2 linked regions of the Homo sapiens genome follow. The protein of the gene in region 2 interacts with the protein of the main gene of each other region in a biochemical or structural test. Each region holds a gene or a part of one and is shown on either strand. Other genes may lie near its edges.

The links.
Region 1: of the proteins of NPLOC4 (region 2) and GZMK, one has a biochemical effect on the other in vitro, tested with the Homo sapiens proteins (one study listed by BioGRID).

What each region holds. Positions count from the first base shown.
Region 1 is NC_000005.10:55,015,840-55,027,255, reverse strand, and holds the start of GZMK (granzyme K precursor), read right to left. Parts: upstream 3,001-11,416; 5' UTR 2,934-3,000; coding exon 2,870-2,933; intron 2,597-2,869; coding exon 2,449-2,596; intron 1-2,448.
Region 2 is NC_000017.11:81,561,674-81,572,127, forward strand, and holds part of NPLOC4 (nuclear protein localization protein 4 homolog), read right to left. Parts: intron 10,416-10,454; coding exon 10,344-10,415; intron 7,439-10,343; coding exon 7,343-7,438; intron 5,861-7,342; coding exon 5,744-5,860; intron 4,930-5,743; exon of another isoform or gene 4,798-4,929; intron 3,935-4,797; coding exon 3,832-3,934; coding exon of another isoform or gene 3,647-3,831; exon of another isoform or gene 2,574-3,646; coding exon of another isoform or gene 2,527-2,573; exon of another isoform or gene 2,307-2,526; coding exon of another isoform or gene 2,248-2,306; exon of another isoform or gene 1-2,247. UniProt on the Homo sapiens protein: The ternary complex containing UFD1, VCP and NPLOC4 binds ubiquitinated proteins and is necessary for the export of misfolded proteins from the ER to the cytoplasm, where they are degraded by the proteasome.

The sequences.
Region 1 (11,416 bases), on a different chromosome or scaffold from region 2:
ATTGTATAACAATACTCGATAACATCTATTAAGTTCTTTGTGTTCTGTGCTAAGCATTTTACAAAGCTTCCCTCATTTAAACCGCACAACAGCGTGGTGAGATAGGTATTATGACAATCCCCATTTTATAGATGAAGAAATTGAGGTTCAGGTAAACGAATAAACTTGAGGACCTTTGCCTCCAGGAGGCAAATTCGGGCAGGATTAAAGCTCAGTTGGCTTGAATCTAGAGCCTGAACATTGAACCATTTTGTTCCAGGAGCCTTGAGCATTTGAGATGGAGTGAGGCCATGTGGAAGGGGCTGTGGAAGGTTCCATCTAACAACTTGCTAGGCAGGTTGGGGCAGGAGGAAGTGCTCTGTGAGAGGGGCCTGGGAGAGAATCAGGAGAACAGGGTACAACAGCTGGTGAGAGTTTTGCTTCTGGTAAGTTAAAATGCTGAAAATAAGTTTGTACAGGACATTTTTTATCAATTTCCTTTTATATTTGACATGGCAACTAATAAAGGGGCCAGAATATTGAGGGAGGAGATGTGTGGATGGCTGGTGAGAAGGGAGCACTCCCAGGTTTGGCCCTCTTCAAAATTTTGCTGAGAGAGAGGCTTGGGGCAAACTATTCCCACAGGATACTGGGGAGTACATTTGTGGGAAGCCACCATTGAGCTATTTTGTAAATATTTTGAATTTCATAAAGCTTAATATTTTTCCAACCACCGATCTGCCTACTTTTTACACCCAAGTGTCCTGTAGAGGAAATTTGATCTACATATTTTGCAGTTCTTTATACCCCAGCCATTTAAAATGATATTTAGCAATAGTTTGTTTTAAGAAAAAAAAAACAAAACACAAAAAACTCCAAGACCTCTCTCCAGTCTTTTGTCAATAATCTCTTTCCCCAATTTGGGAATCCGCTTCTCGTGAGTTAAATCCACTTGACAAAATTTAAAATTCAACTTAGTGATATTATTTAATTTCCTATAACACTTTATGGCTAGTGAAGCACTTTTTCATACACCATGTTTCAGGCCTAGCCAAAGAAAGAAAGAAAGAAAGAAAGATCTTTCAGTGTATTTCTTTCTTTCCATCCAAAGTTTGTTGAACATTTAGAAGTCAAGCTCTGTGTCTGGGGAGGTTATAGACCATTTGAATGTGTATTATGAGCATATTTGAAGATGTGCATATTTTGCATCAAATGAACATTCGCTGACAGTTCCCCACTCTGTCTCTCTGATCTCGAGGGGGCAAATGCCCTGGAGAAGAGAGAAGTGATGGGGATGAGAGTGTGATTTCTATGAGGGCAAGAACCCTGTGTAAATGAAGTAACCATATTAAATTGGAAATCAGTGGCTTGCTATTTAGAGATAGCAGAAGATCTCCCAGTTTGCAGGCTTCAAAACTTCCAATTTGTGATCAAACAGTTCCATTTAAATGGGGTAATCAGACAAAACCCCCAAAGCATAGAAAAGCAAATCAATTCAATTGTTCTGTTTAGATATAGACAATGCCTGGAGAGCAAACCATTACAGCTAAGAGAGATCTTTAAGTGAAAGAAAAGGAGAAGGCTCCATTTCAGCTTATTAGGTAAGAAACATAAGGAAACATATATACAAACAAAAAACAAAACCAAAAACCCAAGCAAACAAACAAAACAACAAATACCAAATTAGTTTTCTACTGGCATTTCCTTTTGTGATGGTTGCAGCATCCCAAGAGGGGTTTTGTGCTTTATTAGCTGAAGTAAGAGAATCCTAGGCTGAAATGGACTTTGGAAGGTTTTACTCTGTCTTCAGAAAAGCTTTCATTCTAAGTATCCTAGAAAATAACTCTCTCATTATCTTTCTCTTTCTAGAAGTCATCAATAACTTGTTTTTTTCCACCTAGGAAAGTTGTAAGTGGTGAGTAGCTACTGTTAGGTAGCTACTGTTAGGAGTGGCAAAGTAGGCTTCTCATGCGTATAATACTAATGATAATAGCTGCAATTTTTTTGTGCTTACTAAATGTGCCAAGCATGCTAAAATACTTAAACAGATACTATTTAATTCTCAAAACCCACAAAGCAGGTATGATATGATTATTACCCCTTTGTAAAATGGGGAAGCTCAGAGCACAGAGCAAGCTCAGGTTGTCTGATTTCCTTTTGAGCAGTGTGATCTAACAAGGTCAAGAGTACTGCTGCTTCAAGTATTACTGTTGCTGTGTTCCCTGCATTATACAGAGGACTTGAATTTGTCTAATGTCTTGCCTGGGAAAAGCAGCTCAGTTCTCTCTGAAAAGGAAAACCCAAGACAGAAAGCGTGGATGTGGAAGAAGGTAAATAAACGCCACCAGTTGGTCAGTAACCACAGAAGCTAACAGTAGATCAAATTCTCATTCAGGAGAGGTAAGCTTCTCTTGTACCTATAATAACTTTCAGAAAAAACACATGTCTGGAAAAGTGTGGAGGACTCACCGATATTGGCAGTGGGCTGCTGTCAGCACCCACTGTGGATCAATCAGAACACCTCCACAAACGTGATGTCCGCCATACTGGATGGAGGCCATAAATGGCCTGGAATGAGGTGACACTTCTTTCCCTCCAATAATTTCCATATTGAAACCTACAAAAGTAGACCAAAAGGTTTCACACAAAAGATCTAAACTACTGTTTCATGTAATTCTTCCAATGACAGTCACTATATTATTTTCAAAGCTTAAAAAACAACAATAACCCTACCTAAAAGCTACAATAATTTTACTGATGAAAAATTTGTATAATACATTACAGTTCAGAAAGATAGGAATGATTGTGAAAATAATTTTCATCTATAATATAACAATATAGTCAGTAGAAATTCATTTAATGTTTACATGTAGATATAGGAGATACTTACACACATGAGTCATATAAGCCCCAACTATTAGGAAAAACAGAGAAAAGGAAGAAAACTTAGTCATTTTAAAGATTTAGATTTAAGAAGCCCAGATGAAATGTGTTGATCCTGTGATGAAGGAAGAAGATTCTGAAGACTGAGTTTTGTTCTTGTAAGTTTTGACTTTCTCACCACAGGTGCTCTAGGGGTAAGATTTTTTTTCACACCTAGGTGTAAACGTTATGTATCAGTTTGGGGACTTTCAGGTCTGTGCTTTTAGCACTTTTTTGTTTTGTTTTGTTTTGAGACGGAGTCTCTCTCTGTCGCCCAGGCTGGAGTGCAGTGGCGCGATCTCGGCTCACTGCAAGCTCTGCCTCCTGGGTTCACGCCATTCTCCTGCCTCAGCCTCCCGAGTAGCTGGGACTACAGGCGCCCACCACCACATCCGGCTAATTGCTTTTAGCACTTTTTTGGGAGAGGTATGTATGCCATAAAGAACTCATATCTGGAGATACCATCTCTAATACCTGTATCAGAGTACTTATGCTATAAAGAAAATTTATACTATATGTGTATATAATATTTATAAATGAAAAATATCCATGCCATAAGAATGTAATGAAGTTGCAGACAGAGTTCAAAGATGTCCATTGCTCTCAAGCAATACTTACTATTTTTCCTGGCACAAAATGGTGCCTATCATATTTCATTCTTCTCTCTTTTTCATTTGGACATAGATTTATGATGAAGAGAGACATGGACCTTGCACAGATTATGGTTACTTCACAATGTGGCTTAGCTAAAGCCTGAGCACCAACCAGAGAAAACCATATGTTTTGCAGCAAACATCCCTACTCATGTCGTTTCTCTAAGTTTGCCCAAATTTGGTTAAATTTTAGTTACATTTTTGTGAGATTTCATAATGTTGTTAAAGGTGAACATTGGCAACTATTTTTGATTCAGAGTCTCTCTTTTACTCATTTTTAATTGAAAATGGCCATGTGTTTTTCCAGGGACTTAATAATAATGTCTTTTAAAAATAAAGGACTGCATTTTGTAATTCTTCCCAGGAACAGATGACAATGCATTGCCAGGCCTTCAATACAAAAGGTATTAGACTCAAGATTCTACAAGATTCTGTTTGTGCCAGACACTGATCAGCAGTGCAAATATAAAATGAATACAAACAGATCACGCATCAGAATGCCAATCACTTCCTAGTAACACTGATCAAAATTTGCATTAAATCAACAGATCTTTCTTTTAAGAGGTATGCATTTTATCTTCCATTCATTTTAGAAAGGAGAATTAAAATCCAGAGCTATTATGCTCGGCAGATTGCAAGAGACTCCTTTCAAATTGTTTTCTAGCACAAAGAGTAGGAATAATAAAAAATAATACTATAATTATGTATTATTCATTATAACTTAATAATATATAAGTAAAATACCTTATTTCCAAAATTCTTTTTATATGATCATTTATGGTTTCATGTCTATGTCTTTGAGGAAAGCAGGACAACTTATGTTACAATGGAAGAAATAAGTTCCAAGAGGCTAAGTAATTTGCCCAAGGCAACACAGCTTATGACCTAGACCAAATCACCTGCCTGACCTCCCTGTATGTTAAGTTGTATGTGAATGAGTACCCTCCCAGAACACAGAATTTTATAAAAAACCTGCTTTCCTTGTACAGGTGTGTGGCAACAGTAAAGCTTTCTACATGTTAAACAGAATGAACAAAACCAACGCAGAGCAGTGACTTCCTGTCAGAGCAGAAGGTGAGATAAGGAGGAGCCAGATTAAGAAAAGCCACAAGCTTAATAAACCAAACTTATTACTCCCACTCAAATGTCCCTGTGAATTTTCAAGTCATCTTTGTCACTGTTGATGTACCTTGGATGCTCTACTGTGTGCCATTGTTCCACATTGGAAGGCAGACAGGATGGCGTCAGTTCCCTGCTACATCCCAGTGATGCTGGGATCGTAAGGAAGATGGTGTGTGACAGGTAGAAGTGATCCAAACTCTAAGGAAGAAATAAATTGTAAAGGACGAAGCTTTGTGTGTGTGTGTGTGTGTGTGTGTGGCGGGGGAAATGGGAATGGTTACAAACATCTCTCAGCTGCTTATTTCTGAGTAGTAAGGATTAATGTCCACATAGCGTTGTACAAATTGCTGAACGTTTTTAGCTGTATTTCCAGGGAAGTGGTTGTCATTAGTCTTGTTTTATGGATAAATAAACTGAAATTCAGGGACTTGCTTGAGATTACCGAGCTAGCAGGTGGCCCTTAAGCTCCTATGTGCTGGCTCCCGGCTCTATGTTCCTTTCAACCTGGCTACATGCCTGCCTCCTTTGAGAAGTCCCTGGGGGTTTAGGGGCTCTGAGACACAAGCTAGCTGTGCAGAAGAGAAAAAGGATTTAGCCATACACACTGCGTGTAATTAGACATGGGTGAGATTTAGTTCAGTTGGGAAGAGTCTCATAACTCTTTCTTGTAGCTGACCTAGAAAATTCTGAGAATCATGTTGGTTAATAGTAATGAGTTATTTGGTTTTGGCTTTAGACCGATTTGCCAGTTAATAGTATCATTTGTTATTATATTCACGATTCTGGATTTGAGAACAGTGGGCTGTGTAACATGATGAGCTCGGCGATCTAATTTATTTCTGGGTGTTGGTTTTTGTTCTGTTGAGTCTGCTGCAGGGAGGGCCATGTTTGCTTTGGATGGCTTTACAGCAACTGTACCGGACTGAGCAAGTGCAAGGCTGTGCTCAGAGGAGGGCTGGCTTCACACGTCATAGCCTTGTGGCTCTTCTTTGCTGTGTTTAGCTGTCTTTCTTGCTGCTCTTAGAGATGTTTTGTTTCTGCTTCTCCTGTGTTTCAGGAGACCCTTATAGAACAGCTGTGCCACTGCTCCAAAGGCCTCGTGTGGTTCTATCCCTTGGACTGCCTTTCTTCAACAGCCCAGACACCTGCTCTGTCAGATTTATAAGCCACACCCCCTAGAGCCATGCCAATCAAAGCATGGCCCGCAGACCTGTGCCAGTCTCCGAACCTCTTTGTTACCGATTTGGAGCAAGATGGGGACAGAAATTGAGAGCCAGAGTTTAGAAACTGTAACAGCGACTTAACATGGCACTGTATTAATTTATTTTATTAATGAAATAAAATTTGTCCAATCTAATAAAAATTGGGTGTGTATTTTGTATGCCTTTGTTTTTTATTTAATTACTTTTTTCTATTTATTTGTGTTGTATAAACGTATCAGTTCACAATGGGCTGAAACTAAAAACAAACAAATTAACAAACTAAAACTCCAAACACATTGGTCTTTCCCACAGGTAGTCTGAGAAACACTGCTCTGTAGACATAAGTGCAAAGCAGATTTGTTTCAAGCTCTTCCCATTTATTCCCTTTTACATTCCTTTGAAAAATGTTCTCAATATCAAGTTTTCCCAAGCTATCCAACCATCCCCAGCCCTTGGCACTTGACATCAGGATTTGGCAGAATTTCACTGGATCCCTCCCTTGTAGCCCACCACCCTTCAGGCCTTGACTTCTGTCCAGTAATGGCTTAGCTAATTTGGTAAATGTATCTGCTAACACCCATAGTGAAACTATGGCAGCTTTGAAAATTGGGCTTGGGAAGGATATTGGGGTGCTATATAATGATATTAAGTCCGAAGTTCTCAAGAAAATGTAAATCTCACCTCAGATTACAGCCATCCCTCCCACTAGGTCCTTAAAATGAATGAGCTTAAGGGCAGTTGGCAAGGAAAGCAAAGTACCCCTCAACTCAGAGCTGGGGCTGTAATAAGGGTTGGGGCACCTGGAATACTGCCTTTTCCTAAGCAACTTAAATGTAAATACTTCAGAGGGCTGCTCTAGGGCCTCTTCTTGGTGGAATGATGGTGGTGGCAAAGGTGAGATTGAGGGAAATTTGTTTTGTCTTCCTCTATCTCAACTTTAAATCAGAATATATTTTGCATGTTAAATCTTCCTTTCATAAATATGAAGATACGTTTTCTAAACCATCATTATTGAGTTAAGTCACACAATAGTACTTCAACTTCCTTTTCCTTTACTCCTCTCCACGTCAGCTATGAAGTGACTGGAATGGATGAGAATTGCCTTAAGTGCAGGATCCTCACATATGGAGTAATCAGGAAAATACCTTGAGGACTTGGCAAATAGGGATGTCCCAGCACTGCTGGTGCTGGCTGCCTGGTCATACACTGTCCCTATCTCAACTTTGTCTCCAGGCCTTACACTGCCCTTTTATGACTCCTTTTTCTTTTCTTCTTTAGAGCAGGCTTTGATGTTCATTTTAACTAAGTTCAAATGTTATGGGTGGGATGAGGAAAGTGCCACATGGGGTGGTCCCTGTGATGTCGCTGGACTCAAGACAGATCACTCACATTGTCCGCAATTACTTGTCCTGAAAGATTTGCACATGTGGAAATCCTTTCAACAGTAATGACTGCCAAAGGAAGGTTTTCAGCTCCAGGCTCGTAGGTACCCTTGCCTTGCACAGAGGAAGGTGAGGACTATATGAGCCTACCAGTATTATAGGGAGAAAACGGGTAAATATGTAGGCCAAGTTAAGGGAAAAATACCAGAGAAGGACCAGGTAATAAAGACCAGAGGAAAGGTGGAGGCAGGAAGGGAGGGAAGAAAATAAATACTGTTGAATAAAGAAGGAAAAATGATCAATTGAGGATGGGAGGCCTTATAATGGAACACTTCCATTTATATTTGAACATCTCAGATACACTACTGTGATACAGTACTGTGCCCCAAAGCCAAATATGTTATCATTGTTTTACAATAGAAACAGATACATTACAAGAAATAATCTCATCATGCTGAAAGCAATTAAATTGTTTAACTAGTCAGGATGATTTTACAAAATAAACGAAGTCACAGCAGGCAAAGTAGTAGGAATTTCAAAATGAACGACCACATTCATTAATGAGGGAAACACAGTAATTGCTATGGTCAAGCTGGAACACAGCAAGTGTTATCGATTGATTCAGTATTCACTAATTTTCCATTGAGAATCAATTCAAGTAGAAATCTAGATATGATATACTTTTTCCAAAAAGTGACCAAACAACACACACACATACACACACACACATACAACCTTCCCCTCCCACCCTTTTTTCTATTAGGAAATGAAATAATTATATACACTAAATGAGATGGTAAATTAAAAATAATGTTTAAGAGAGGAAGGCATAAAGGAAACTATCAATAAGTTAGAGCATAGAAGACTTTTGTAAGGTAGAAAATACCATAGGCAATATCCAAAGACATATGGCAAAATGCTTGTCACTTACATTGAAAGCATTTCCCCCCAAAGACAATATCTTTAATATATGAAGGGTCCTTATAAATAAATTTAACAATAAGTGGGCTCAATGTGAGCAAATCAATATGAAGACAAATAAAACAGTATTTTAGTTAAACTACCTCACTAGGGACCTGGTATATAAATGATATTTAGAAATAATTTTGATGACTATTACAGGATAAATAATGAAGCACATTTTACATTTTTGCAAGGCTTAATAAACATAAGTTTGATATGCTAAGAACACAACTGCTATAGCAAGTATTTGATAAAAAGGCTGCAGGCTGAGAAGAGATTATCAACAAAAGCATAATCTTCTAAATTTTTTTTTGAGAAGTTACCAAGTATCTTCTTTATTATTTTTAATTAATGAATGAATTAGTTTATAAATTTATACCACATTCAACTTATTCTACTAGGTATAAGCAAATCACATTGAGAATTACAAAAATTCCAGATGCATAGATCGTTCACAGACTATATATACTCCAGTAGGAAATATGAAGGACTTAAGTTGTTAACCATAATACCACATAAGGACAATATGAATGGGAATATTCAGTGCATTAGTTATGTTACAGAAATATGTGCAAATAAGTTTAAAATTAAGGCTTTGATGTAAATATTATAGAAAATACAATCATATATTTGAATTGCTAGTTACACTAGATAATCCCAAACTATATTCTTTTTTTTGTAATTTTTTTTATTATACTTTAAGTTCTAGGGTACATGTGCACAACATGCAGGTTTGTTACATATGTATACATGAGCCATGTTGGTGTGCTGCACCCATTAACTCGTCATTTACATTAGGTATATCTCCTAATGCTTTCCCTTCCCCCTCCCCCCACCGCACAACAGGCCCCTGTGTGTGATGTTCCCCTTCCTGTGTCCAAGTGTTCTCATTGTTCAATTCCCACCTATGAGTGAGAATATGCGGTGTTTGGTTTTCTGTCCTTGCAATAGTTTGCTGAGAATGATGGTTTCCAGCTTCATCCATGTCCCTACAAATGACCTGAACTCATCCTTTTTTTATGGCTGCATAGTATTCCATGGTGTATATGTGCCACATTTTCTTAATCCGGTCTATCATTGATGGACATTTGGGCTGGTTCCAAGTCTTTGCTATTGTGAATAGTGCCGCAATAAACATACGTGTGCATGTGTCTTTATAGCAGCATGATTTATAATCCTTTGTGTATATACGCAGTAATGGGATGGCTGGGTCAAATGGTATCTCTAATTTTAGATCCTTGGGGAATCGCCACACTGTCTTCCACAATGGTTGAACTAGTTTACAGTCCCACCAACAGTGCAAAAGTGTTCCTATTTCTCCACATCCTCTCCAGCACCTGTTGTTTCCTGACTTTCTAATGATCGCCATTCTAACTGGTGTGAGATGATATCTCATTGTGGTTTTGATTTGCATTTCTCTGATGGCCAGTGATGATAAGCATTTTTTCATGTGTCTTTTGGCTGCATAAATGTCTTCTTTTGAGAAGTGTCTGTTCATATCCTTTGCCCACTTTTTGATGGGGTTTTTTTTTCTTGTAAATTTGTTTGAGTTCATTGTAGATTCTGAATATTAGCCCTTTGTCAGATGAGTAGGTTGCAAAAATTTTCTCCCATTCTGTAGGTTGCCTGTTCACTCTGATGGTAGTTTCTTTTGCTGTGCAGCTCTTTAGTTTAATTAAATCCCATTTGTCAATTTTGGCTTTTGATGCCATTGCTTTTGGTGTTTTAGTCATGAAGTCCTTGCCCATGCCTATGTCCTGAATGGTATTGCCTAGGTTTTCTTCTAGAGTTTTCATGGTTTTAGGTCTAACATTTAAGTCTTTAATCCATCTTGAATTAATTTTTGTATAAGGTGTAAGGAAGGGATCCAGTTTCAGCTTTCTACATATGACTAGCCAGTTTTCCCAGCACCATTTATTAAACAGGGAATCCTTTCCCATTTCTTGTTTTTGTCACATTCATCAAAGATCAGATGGTTGTAGATGTGTCGTATTATTTCTGAGGCCTCTGTTCTGTCCCATTAGTCTTTATCTCTGTTTTGGTACCAGTACCATGCTGTTTTGGTTACTGTAGCCTTGTAGTATAGTTTGAAGTCAGGTAGCGTGATGCCTCCAGCTTTTTTTTTTTGGCTTAGGACCGTCTTGGCAATGCAGGCTCTTTTTTGGTTCCATATGAACTTTAAAGTAGTTTTTTCCAATTCTGTGAAGAAAGTCATTGGTAGCTTGATGGGGATGGCATTGAATCTATAAATTACCTTGGGCAGTATGGCCATTTTCACAATATTGATTCTTCCTATCCATGAGCATGGAATGTTCTTCCATTTGTTTGTATCCTCTTTTATTTCATTGAGCAGTGGTTTGTAGTTCTCCTTGAAGAGGTCCTTCACATCTGTTGTGAGTTGGATTCCTAGATATTTTATTCTCTTTGAAGCAATTGTGAATGGGAGTTCACTCATGATTTGACTCTCTATTTGTCTGTTATTGGTGTATAGGAACGCTTGTGACTTTTGCACATTGATTTTGTATCCTGAGACTTTGCTAACGTTGCTCATTAGCTTAAGGAGATTTTGGGCTGAGACAATGGGGTTTTCTAAATATGTAATCACGTCATCTGCAAACAGAGACAATTTGACTTCCTCTTTTCCTAATTGAATACCCTTTATTTCTTTCTCCTACCTGATTGCCCTGGGCAGAACTTCCAACACTATGTTGAATAGGAGTGGTGAGAGAGGGCATCCCTGTCTTGTGCCAGTTTTCAAAGGGAATTCTTCCAGTTTTTGTCCATTCAGTAAGATATTGGCTGTGGGTTTGTCATAAATAGCTCTTATTATTTTGAGATACGTCCCATGAATACGTAATTTATTGAGAGTTTTTAGCATGAATGGCTGTTGAATTTTGTCAAAGACCTTTTCTGCATCTATAGAGATAATCATGTGGTTTTTGTCTTTGGTTCTGTTTATATGCTGGATTATGTTTATTGATTTTTGTATGTTGAACCAGCCTTGCATCCCAGGGATGAAGCCCACTTAATCATGGTGGGTAAGCTTTTTGATGTGCTGCTGGAGTTGGTTTGTCAGTATTTTATTGAGGATTTTTGCATTGATGTTCATCAGAGATATTGGTCTAAAATTGTTTTTTTGTTGTGTCTCTGCCAGGCTTTGATATCAGGATGATGCTGGCCTCATAACATGAGT
Region 2 (10,454 bases):
CTGACTCATGGGATCCTCCCATTTCAGCCTCCCCAGAAGCTGGGATTATAGGCGTGGACCACTCACCATGCCCAGCTAATTCTTTTTTTTTTAATATTGTTTTTTTGTACAGACGGGGCTTCACTATGCTGTGTGGGCTGGTCTCACACTTCTGGGCTACAGTGTCCTCCAGCTTTGGCCTCCTAGAGTGTTAGGATTATAGCTATGAGACATCATGCCCAGCCTGCTTCATAGTTTTACCTTTTACCATTAGGCCTATGACCCATCCTGAGCTGATCTTTGTGTCTTGTGTATACACGTCTGTAATCCCAGCACTTTGGGAGACCGAGGCAGGTGGATCACCTGAGGTCAGGAGTTCCAGACCAGCCTGACCAACATGGTGAAACCCCATCTCTACTAAAAATATAAAAATTAGCCAGGCGTGGGTGCACGCCTGTAGTCCCAGCTACTCGGGAGGCTGAGGCAGGAGTATCACTTGAACCCAGGACGTGGAGGTTGCAGTAAGTGGAGATCATGAGATTGCACTGCAGCCTGGGTGACAGGGTGAGATTCCGTCTCAAAACAAAACAAAACAACCCATGAGGGCCGGGCGCGGTGGCTCACACCTATAATCCCAGCACTTTGGGAAGCCGAGGTGGGTGGATCACTTGAGGTCAGGAGTTTGAGACCAGCCTGGCCAACATGGAGAAACCCTGTCTCTACTAAAACTAAAAAAATTAGCTGGGTGTGGTGGCAGCCACCTGTAATTCCAGCTACTTAGGAGGCAGAGGCTGGACAATGGCTTGAACCCGGGAGGTGGAGGCTGCAGTGAGCTGAGATCACACTACTGCACTCCAGCCTGGGCAACAGAACAAGACTTTGTCTCAAAACAAACAAACAAAAAACCCATGAAAAAATGCCCAACATCACTAATCATCAGAGATGCAAATTAAAACCACAGTGAGATACCAGTCAGAACTTACACCAGTCAGAACTGCCTATTATTAAAGAGTTGGCTGGACATGGTGGCTTACCACTGCAATCTCAGCACTGAGGCGGGAGGATCGCTTGGGCCCAAGAGTTCAAGACCAGCCTGGGCAACATAGTGAGACCTCATCTCTACAACAAATTTAAAAAATCAGCCAGGGATGGTGGCACATGCTTGTAGTCCCAGCTGCTCAGGAGGCTGAGGCGGGAGGATTGTTTGAGCCTGGGGAGGTCAAGGTGAGACTGACCTCAAATGCCACTGCACTTCAGCCTGGGTGACAGAGTGAGAACCTGTCTCAAAAAAAAAAGGAGGGGGGAAAAAAAAAAGGTCAGGTGCAGTGGCTCACAGCTGTAATCTCAGCACTTTGGGAACCAAGGCAGGAAGATCACTTGAGCCTAGGAGTTTGAGACCAGCCTGGGCAACATGGCAAGACCACATCTTTTTTTTTTTTTTGAGACAGAGTCTTGCTCTGTCGCCCAGGCTGGAGTACAGTGGCACGATCTCAGCTCACTACAACCTACGCTTCCTGGGTCAAGTGATTCTCCTGCCTCAGCCTCCTGAGTAGCTGGGATTACAGGCGCTCGCCACCATGCCCAGCTAATTTTTGTAGTTTTAACAGAAATGGGGTTTCACCATGTTGGCCAGGATGGTCTCAATCCCTTGACGTTGTGATCCACCTGCCTCAGCCTCCCAAAGTGCTGGGATTACAGGTGTGAGCCAGCCACCGGGCCCGGCCAACCCTATCTCTTAAAGAAAAAAAAAAAACACCAACCAAAAACATTAGTTGGGTGTAGTGGCTCATGTTTATACTCCTAGGTACTCCGAAAGCTGATGCAGGAGGATCGCTTGAGCTCAGGAATTGAAGGCTGTAGTGAGCTATGATCACTCCACTGCACTCCAGCCTAGGCAACAGAGTGAAACCCTGTCTCTAAAAGGGAAACAAAAAAGAAAAAAAAAAAAAAGACTGGTGTCATTGTTAGAACTGCATCAAAGGGCTGGGTGCAGTGGCTCCCAGGTATAATCTCAGGACTTTGTGAGGCTGAGGTGCAAGGAATGCTTGAGGCCAAAGTTTGAGACCAGTCTGGGCAACACAGTGAGACCTCATTGATACAAAAATATTAAAAAATTTTGCAGCCATAAAAAGGAATGAAATCATGTCCTTTGCAGCAACATGGATGCAGTTGAAGGCCATTATTCTAAGCAAACTAATGCAGGAACAGCAAACCAAATACTACATGTTTTCATTTATAAGTGGGAGCTAAACATGGGTACTCACGTACATAAAGATGGCAACGCCAGGTGTGGTGGTACACATCTGTAATCCCAGCTACTCGGGAGGCTGAGGGAGGGGAATTGCTTCAACCCAGGAGGCAGAGTTTGCAGTGAGCTAAGATTGCGCCACTGCACTCCAGCCTGGGAGACAGGGTGAGGCTCCAGCTCAAAACACACACACACACACACACACACACACACACACAAAGAGCAGGGCGGGCTGAAAAACTATTAGGTACTATGTGTAGTACCTGGGTGATGTGATCAATCATACCCCAACCTCAGCATCAGGCAATATACCCAGGTGACAAACCTGCACATGTACCCTGTGAATCTAAAATAAGTTAAAATTATTTTTAAAAAACAAACAAATAAAAAGCAACAACAAAGCCCCAAGAATTAGCTGGGTGTGGTGTTGCAAGCCTGTGGTCCCAGTTACTCAGCAGGCTGAAGCAGAAAGATCACTTGAGCCTGGAGTTTGAGGCTGCAGTGAGTTACGATTGTGCAACTGCACTCCAGCCTCGGCAATAGAGTGAGACCCTGTCTCTACAAAAATAAAAATAATAAACAAAGAATTGTGTGAAAAGAAAACCTCGGCTGGGCGTGGTGGCTCACACCTGTAATCCCAACACTCTGGGAGGCAGAGGCAAGCAGATCACAAGGTCAGGAGTTCGAGACCAGCCTGGCTAACATGGTGAAACCCTGGCTCTACTAAGAATACAAAAATTATCCAGGCATGGTGGCACATGCCTGTAGTCCCAGCTACTCAGGAGGCTGAGGCAGGAGAATCGTTTGAACCCAGGAGGTGGAGGTTGCAGTGAGGCAAGATCACGCCACCACACTCCAGCCTGGGTGACAAGAGCCAAACTCCGTCTCAAAAAAAAAAAAAAAAACAGGAAATGGTATAAAGGTGTTTGATGTGTCTTTTGAAGGCTGTGTTAACAGAAGGATTCTAGCATTTGTCCAGGGCCGTAGCTCCCGGGCACTCTGGTGCTCTCAGCTGCAGGGACTCAGGGCACTCGGGCTGCACGAGGCACCACGGTGCGTGAGGAGTCCCTGCAGCAATGCTGACAGAAGGTTCTCACGAGTGGGGAATCGTTCAGGACCTGGTGACTGAGGGTCCGGAAGACACGCAATGCCTGCGGTCCGTTCCGTAGTGTCCACCAGCAACAACATGGATGCTGCAGGCTTCTCCTCCTTACAGCTTTAAGCACTAAAGGGAAATTCTCAAGGAGACCAAAAGGTCCCACGCTTCCGGCGCTTCCATAAAGTTTCTGATTCTCTTAAGACAATGATGTTCAAAGTGCTCCTAGGATGCCTGGAGATTAGTATCTCTGATGTACAGGTTTATAAAATTTACAGGGCTGTGTACCTAAGACGTACGGCCTGGACAACATGTCTGCTCCATCACCGGAGCCTGCCACGTGCCTGGCAGGGAGGCCGAGTCTCTACTCGTTGCATTGCCGATGGCACCTGCCAGGATGCAGCTGGGTGCGGAATCCAGGGCACCACCGGCAGTGGGGAGCTGTGCAGAGTGGGCTGCTCTCCGGCCCCAGCCACGGGGTGCCGGGGCAGGGGGTGGGGGTACTCACTGCACAGCTGCTCGATGGTGGCCCACTGCTCAGACCTCTTCCATGTCTGGGCGAGCTCCTCATTTCTGGTCCGCACGGCCTCCAGCAGCAAGCTGATGCTGTCCTACAAGAAGCCAAAAGGAAGGTTCCTCTTCGCTGTGCCTAAGGTGAGCAGCTTCCTGCTAGAACAGGTTTCTTTCTCCCCAACATCAAGACGTATTTCTGAGGACATTTTAAAAATCTTACAGGCTATCACTATAAAATGCAAACTGCCACAACTTACATCTATAAACGCAAGTGCTAAATTGAACTAGAATTTAAATTCTTCCCAAATAGGCCCAAGCGGGCATCTGTGCCTCTGCCTTGTGCTGACGGTGCTCAACAGCCCGGAGGATAGGAGCTCATGCCTCTCGTCCTGGAGGCTGGGATGGAGGGCGGAAGTCTTGACTGTGAGACGTGTCCTCCTCCCTCACATTTCATCCCTCTGCCTCTTTCTCCTCTCGTGTCTGGAAAAATGCACTCTCTATCCTAGCCTTCCGAGTCAAACTGCAGGGGATTAATGCATTAAGGATGGGCGCAGTGGCTCACGCCTGTAATCCCAACACTTTCAGAGGCAGAGGCAGACAGATCACGAGGTCAGGAGTTTGAGACCAGCCTGGCAAACGTGGCGAAACCCCGTCTCTACTAAAAATACAACAATTAGACAGGCGTGGTTGCGGGCACCTGTAATCCCAGCTACTCGGGAGGCTGAGGCGGGAGAATCGCTTGAACCCAGAAGGCGGAGGTTGCAGTAAGCCAAGATTGCGCCAATGCACTCCGGTCTGGGCAACAGAGCGAGACTCCGTCTTAAAAAAAAATAATTCATATATGAGAAACGGATAAAGCCTTCAGGAGCTCTCAGTACCTCCAGAGAATGTCTTCCAACAGATGACTGCAAAAATAGTGCAGTATACTAGCAAGGTGGCTCTGGTGTAGAGGGAGCCTCACCTTTCACCACCTGTCCAGACAGATGGGCAGCAGCTGAACCTCGGAGCAGGAGGTGCAGTTCCCTGGGCTGACTAGGGAAGGCACAGGCAGGGAAGAGGCACAGGGTGCCTGATGTCAAATACCCGAGTGAGTGGTTTTGAGACAAAATACAGACACAAAATAAACTAGCAGGATACAAGAACAGCTATAGGCTTCCTGACAGAGAAAGGCCGGGGGAGGAGGAGCCTCTCTATTCTGTCTCCTTCAGGGAAAAGTTCTGAGTCAGTGGCGGAGCAGCTCAGAAAGAATTTGCTCCTTTCTCTTTGGCATTTCCTGTTGGCTTGAACAGTGAAGAAAAAGCCAAAGTCGGACCCCTACACACGGCAAGAACCTCCTGGGGGCTGCTGCCCACTGGCCCCCACTACCCAGAGCAGCCACTTCTGCAAAGCACTCGCCCTCTTCTCCCCCAACGGTGTCTCTTAAAAATGCCAACTGTGCAGCTGTGAGCTTGGGGTCTGGAAGCTGGCCAAGCCTTCTGGGCCAAGGCAATAAAACCAGAGTTGATTTAGGAGGAGGGGAGATATGAGTAAAAAGCAGAGGCTGTGACTCTGAAACTGTTAGAACAGGAATTTTTTAAACTGTCTAACTCTAATGCTGGAGGCAGAGCTAAATCACCTCTGCTTCCCATTCGATTGTAACAGATGAAACCGTACTTCCTCACAGAGGTGCAGACACTCAATGGAAATGCTAAAGGTGAAAAAATTAATCTTTCTATCAACAAGCTTCTTGTGAAAAGCTGCTGCCTACACTCTGCCCATAGGACAAATGAGGGGGACAACCTGTGACCCCGAGCTTTGACCCAGTTTCCCAATCATGCTCTGGTCTGGGAGGAAAGAAAGCAAGACACAGGCGTCTCTTTGCAGCCAAAGCCCACTTGCTCAAGTGGACACCACACTTGGACACGCACCTGCAGAGGCATAACTTCATTGGTGACCAGGAACAGCAAGAGGTGGAAATCTGAGATGGTATCCAAGAACACAGATGAGGTATTCTGAGACAAATAGGTGGCCAAGCTATGGAAGTCCTAGAGGAATGGGAATAAACATGAATGTTCCATACAGTTCCCCAGTGCCAGACCCCGAAACAGAGCTGTTTCCTACTAAGACGCAACTCAATACACTGAATGCTGAGACACCTCTCCCTCTGCCTCTGCAACCACGAACAGGGTCCAAGAAAGAGGAGCAGGCAGCTGCAAAGCAAGCTCTTGCTCTCTTCTCCCAAGAAGATGCTCTCAGCACACCTGACTACCCAGATGTGCAAGGAGACATGCTTATAAAGCTGACTCAGACTGGCCAGGTGTGGAGGCTAACACAGTAATTCCAGCACTTTTTAGGAGGCCGAGGCAGGCAGGTGGTCAGGAGTTCGAGACCAGTCTGGCCAACATGGCGAAACCCCGTCTCTACTAAAAATACAAAAAAAATTACCCAGGCTTGGTGGCGCGCACCTATAATCCCAGCTACTCAGGAGGCTGAAGCAGAAGAATCGCTTGAACCCAGGAGGTGGAGGTTGTAGTGAGCCAAGATCGCACCACTGCACTCCAGCCTGGGTGATAGAGTGAGACTCTGTCTTCCAAAAAAAAAAAAAAAAAAAAAAAAAGGCTGACTCAGACAGAGACACAAACATGGAAATGCGCCCTGGTCCCCCGGTGGAGAGTGGGCTGCGGGAGGGGCCTGGGGCCCCCTTCACGGCAGGGAGACAGGTCTGACTTTTCCTGTCGAGCTGTATTCTCCATCTAGGGCAGCAAGAGGGAGGAATGTGCAGGGCAGCCGTGATGCAGCACGGACATCTTCAGCAGAACCAAACACAGAGCTTCAAGAGTGCACCCCAATAACTGGCTTTGCACCTCTGTGAGCACCCCAAGTCCCCTGGGCGGATGGGCACTGAGGGGATCAAAGCATAGAAGAAGCTTTGTCAGCCACTGAAGAAAACCTCATTATAGACATTCTTTGACCACCTTCTGAAATGTCTGTTAGCAAGTTATGATTTAAGAACAACCATGTGTACACAGCCTGTCTACACAGTATGCAGGCGTGACAGCAAATCGGACCTGGCCTGATCTGCCAGTGAGAGCAGAGGCCAACACGGGAGCCACGCTAAGCAGCAGATCAACACTACACACGGGAAAGCCGAGGCCAGGCCGAGAGGGGCCACACAGCCCCAAGGTGCCTAAGAAGGGCAGCAGGTGACCAGGCAGGGGCCAGGCCAAACCAACAGTGACGAGGCTGCTGGCAGAAGACACAAAGCAACACATTTGGGAAAATTACGAGGTCCACTGAAGATGTGGCCAGTCAGGACGTCAGGGGATTAGCCTTTGTGGCCGTCCATCACCTAGCCATGGGAAGGGCGTCCACGTGACCAGCAGTGCCCCACAGTAGGCCCTAGCTGGCCTGTCACAAGAATGAATCGGGAGCATTTGAAAGCTTGATGTTTTCTGGAAAAACAATACTGACACTAGATAACAATCAGCAGTTACCTTAAATTATGTTTCTAAAGACAAAGAGCTCACCTGTGTCTCACCCAATACATCCCGGTTTTCAATAGGAAATGGATTTTGCGAAATAGAAAAAGTGTAAACTGGATCCTTGGGGAAAGTTGTTGTGATCTAATGAAGAAAAACACAAACCCATGATAAATGAGGCTGAAAATGGTGTGGCCGACTCCCAGCCAGCCCAGAGCATCTCCCAGAGCCCAAATTAACGACTCCTAGCAATTCTGAGAATGTTCTACAAGCTCTCCATCAAAGGGAACCGTTATCTATTAGTGTCATCTCTAAACGAACACTTGGAAACTCCGCCATCCTGGAGACAAACTACACCATATCCGGGCAGCCTCCGGCCTGTGCACCGGCCTCGACGTCGGACAAAAAGGGCACTGGGACTCCCCTCGTGGCACAGCTTCCCTTCAGAGTCACACAGGTTCTCTCCCTCTGCTATGGAGGAACGAAAGGCTGGTTTGGCCCCTTGGCCAGGTGACAGGAAAGGAACGGAAGGGCCAGGAGGCCGCCCCAGGAGCTGACTTTGCTCAAGAGAGATTCGTGTCATTGGATTCGGAGGGCAAATGAGCAATCAGCCAGCTTTCAAGACACAAAGCACCCTTCAGCAGCTCACTAAGCCCCTTCTGAATGCTGGGAGCCACTCCACGGAGCTGTGGGCTTTTCCAGGCAGGGGTGAATGTAAGGCCCTTGAGGAACACAGGGTTCAGCTCTTCTCTCTCCCTCAGAGCTGATACCCAAAGGCCAGCTAAGTCCTTCAGTCCTTCACTGGCTCAGACAGGCCTTAATGACAACAGAGGGCACTTTGCACCTAAGATATAATCAATAGATGCTACAGGGACAGTGGTAAATGTGCAAGAATCAATAGAAATACCACTTTTATTCTTCGTGACAGACACCCCTCCCCAAAGCAGCACCGAGTTGAGTTGATGCTGCTTTTCTCTGCAACACAACAGCAGCAGCAGAGGTCACACCTCTTCCAGATTTAGGGGAACTATTCTGGTTCCTTTGGGACTATTTCTAAAGAATGAGTGTGGTTCTGGTCTGTTTTCTGCATCAGCAAAGGCAGTGAGTTGTTGAGCTAGCTGGCCCAGGATTTGCTGTGCCAGCGCCAGCCGCTGTGGAAGGACAGCTGAGCCACCAGCAGCATCTCTGGCCTGAGCTGGCCCTTCATGGGCAAGCGGCGGGGTGGGTCATGAAGACTCGGGCCGCGGTGCCACGTGTCGGCTACATGGCCTCGTCAGTTAGGGATCCTGGGCCTCACTTTACTCTTCCTCAGGATGAAGATGATCGGAGTACTCGCCTCCTGGGTGCCCAGCACGGGGCTGGTACACATAGTGTTGGTACACACAGTGCTGGGTCCCAGCTGAAGACAGGGGAGGTGCTGACCTCCTGCAGAGACAAAAGCCTGGCCTGCTCAGGCGCGTCCCTTGGGAAGGCCTAGAAATGAAGAAGGCGGCACCCCCAGAACACGTGCTAGTGAGTGAGCTAGTGGGACTGACGGGGGCTCTTGCTGGCCTTGTAACTGGCCCTTGGAGGGGAACAGAACCAAAGTCCACACAGCCCATCCCAGATGTCCCAAGGAAGGGCATCAGCTCCCATCTTACACTGAAGCCATTTCCCTACCCTACCCATCGTCTATCAGCCAGATGATGCCCCCAGAACCCACAAAGAAACCCCAGTAACACTGGCTGGTGCCTTTTCCTGCCTGCCCAGCCATCCCATCCCAAGGTTTAAGAACCTTGGCTGAGGCCAGCGCCTGTGGCCCAGGGCTGGGCATGGAGCTTGACACACCTCTCTGGGCACCTGCTCTCAAGGACTCCCCATGCCTCACTTCCACAGGGTCAAGGAGCCTGGGCATCACAGAGCAGAATGCTCTCCCACAAACAAGTACTTCTGAAAAACTGCACTAAGGCAAAAACTTAACTTCCTTTATAAAAGAAGAGGAAAGAAGTGGGGAGGCTGCTTGGGGTAGAAGACCTGAGAAAGCTGGTTTTAAATCATGCCTGCTCCTCCTGGGTGCATGCTCCATCAATCTGTTTTCATCTTAATTACACCCTAGGTAGTCTAAAAACCAGATGCCTTCACGGCCTAGGTAATAAATATGTTCTCGGGAGCTGTCAGTTGGAATGGTGCATCGATGGGCTTGGCTCGTGGGGACCTGCTGTTCCGAATGCAATGATATTTTACTGCCTGAATCACGTGCCCATCCAATTTCAAATGCAGCCTGAATAGATCCTGGCGTGGCAGCAGCATAGGAAATGAGCCGCCTCCCGTCCGCTTTGGACAGAGCTCCGGTGGGGCTGATGCACTGGCTTCTGCAAAGGCTCATCCTGCCATCCTTGCTGCCCTGTGGCCAATGGTACAGCCATGTCTCCATGACCATAAAATGCCTCCAAAAAGGAGCTGAGACACAGGGAAGATGTGGAAGAGCCAGGGGCCTTTGTGGCTCCTGGAGTTCCACCCAGTAAACCACGCTGAGCCCTCACTCAAGAACACTGAGTTACAGGTGTGTCCCCTGGGGACCACCCTGGACGGAGTGACCCAGACACACTGTGGGCTGTGGCAGCTGTGCTGGGGCTAGGGCAAGCACCTGCACGTGCAGGACAGCTGACAGCCACACACCAAGCACAGCACATCTGGACAAGACTGCTTGATGCTCCGGTGACTGGAGACCCAAGCAATGGGGGTTCGCTGCCTTCCAGAGGCTGCCTAGCCTGGGGTCAGTGGTCCTTTGTACTTTAGTATGGGGACAGTTAACCCCTAGGTTGACGTCAAGGAAATAAAAACCTGAGACTAAAACAAAAAGCCCTTAAAACTGTGAGCATTTCAGCAACACCGCATGCTCAGTGATTCTACAACCACCTCCTGGGTGCCTGTTCTGGGGTGGGCACTGCTCAAGGCAGAGGGTGCCTTAAATTGCAGCCTCCTCCCTTGAGCAGCCACCACCCAGCAGTCCCACCTACAAGGCGCCCAATGGGTCCACCTGCCCAAGCTGTGCATGGGGGGCACTTACGTCTATGATGAGATACTCCACAGGCAGGGGCCGGGCCAGCTGGGTGATCTCGTTGCCAAACTTGTCTACGTCCTGCAATAGTCAGAGGGGAACAGCGGTGAGCAAAGACGA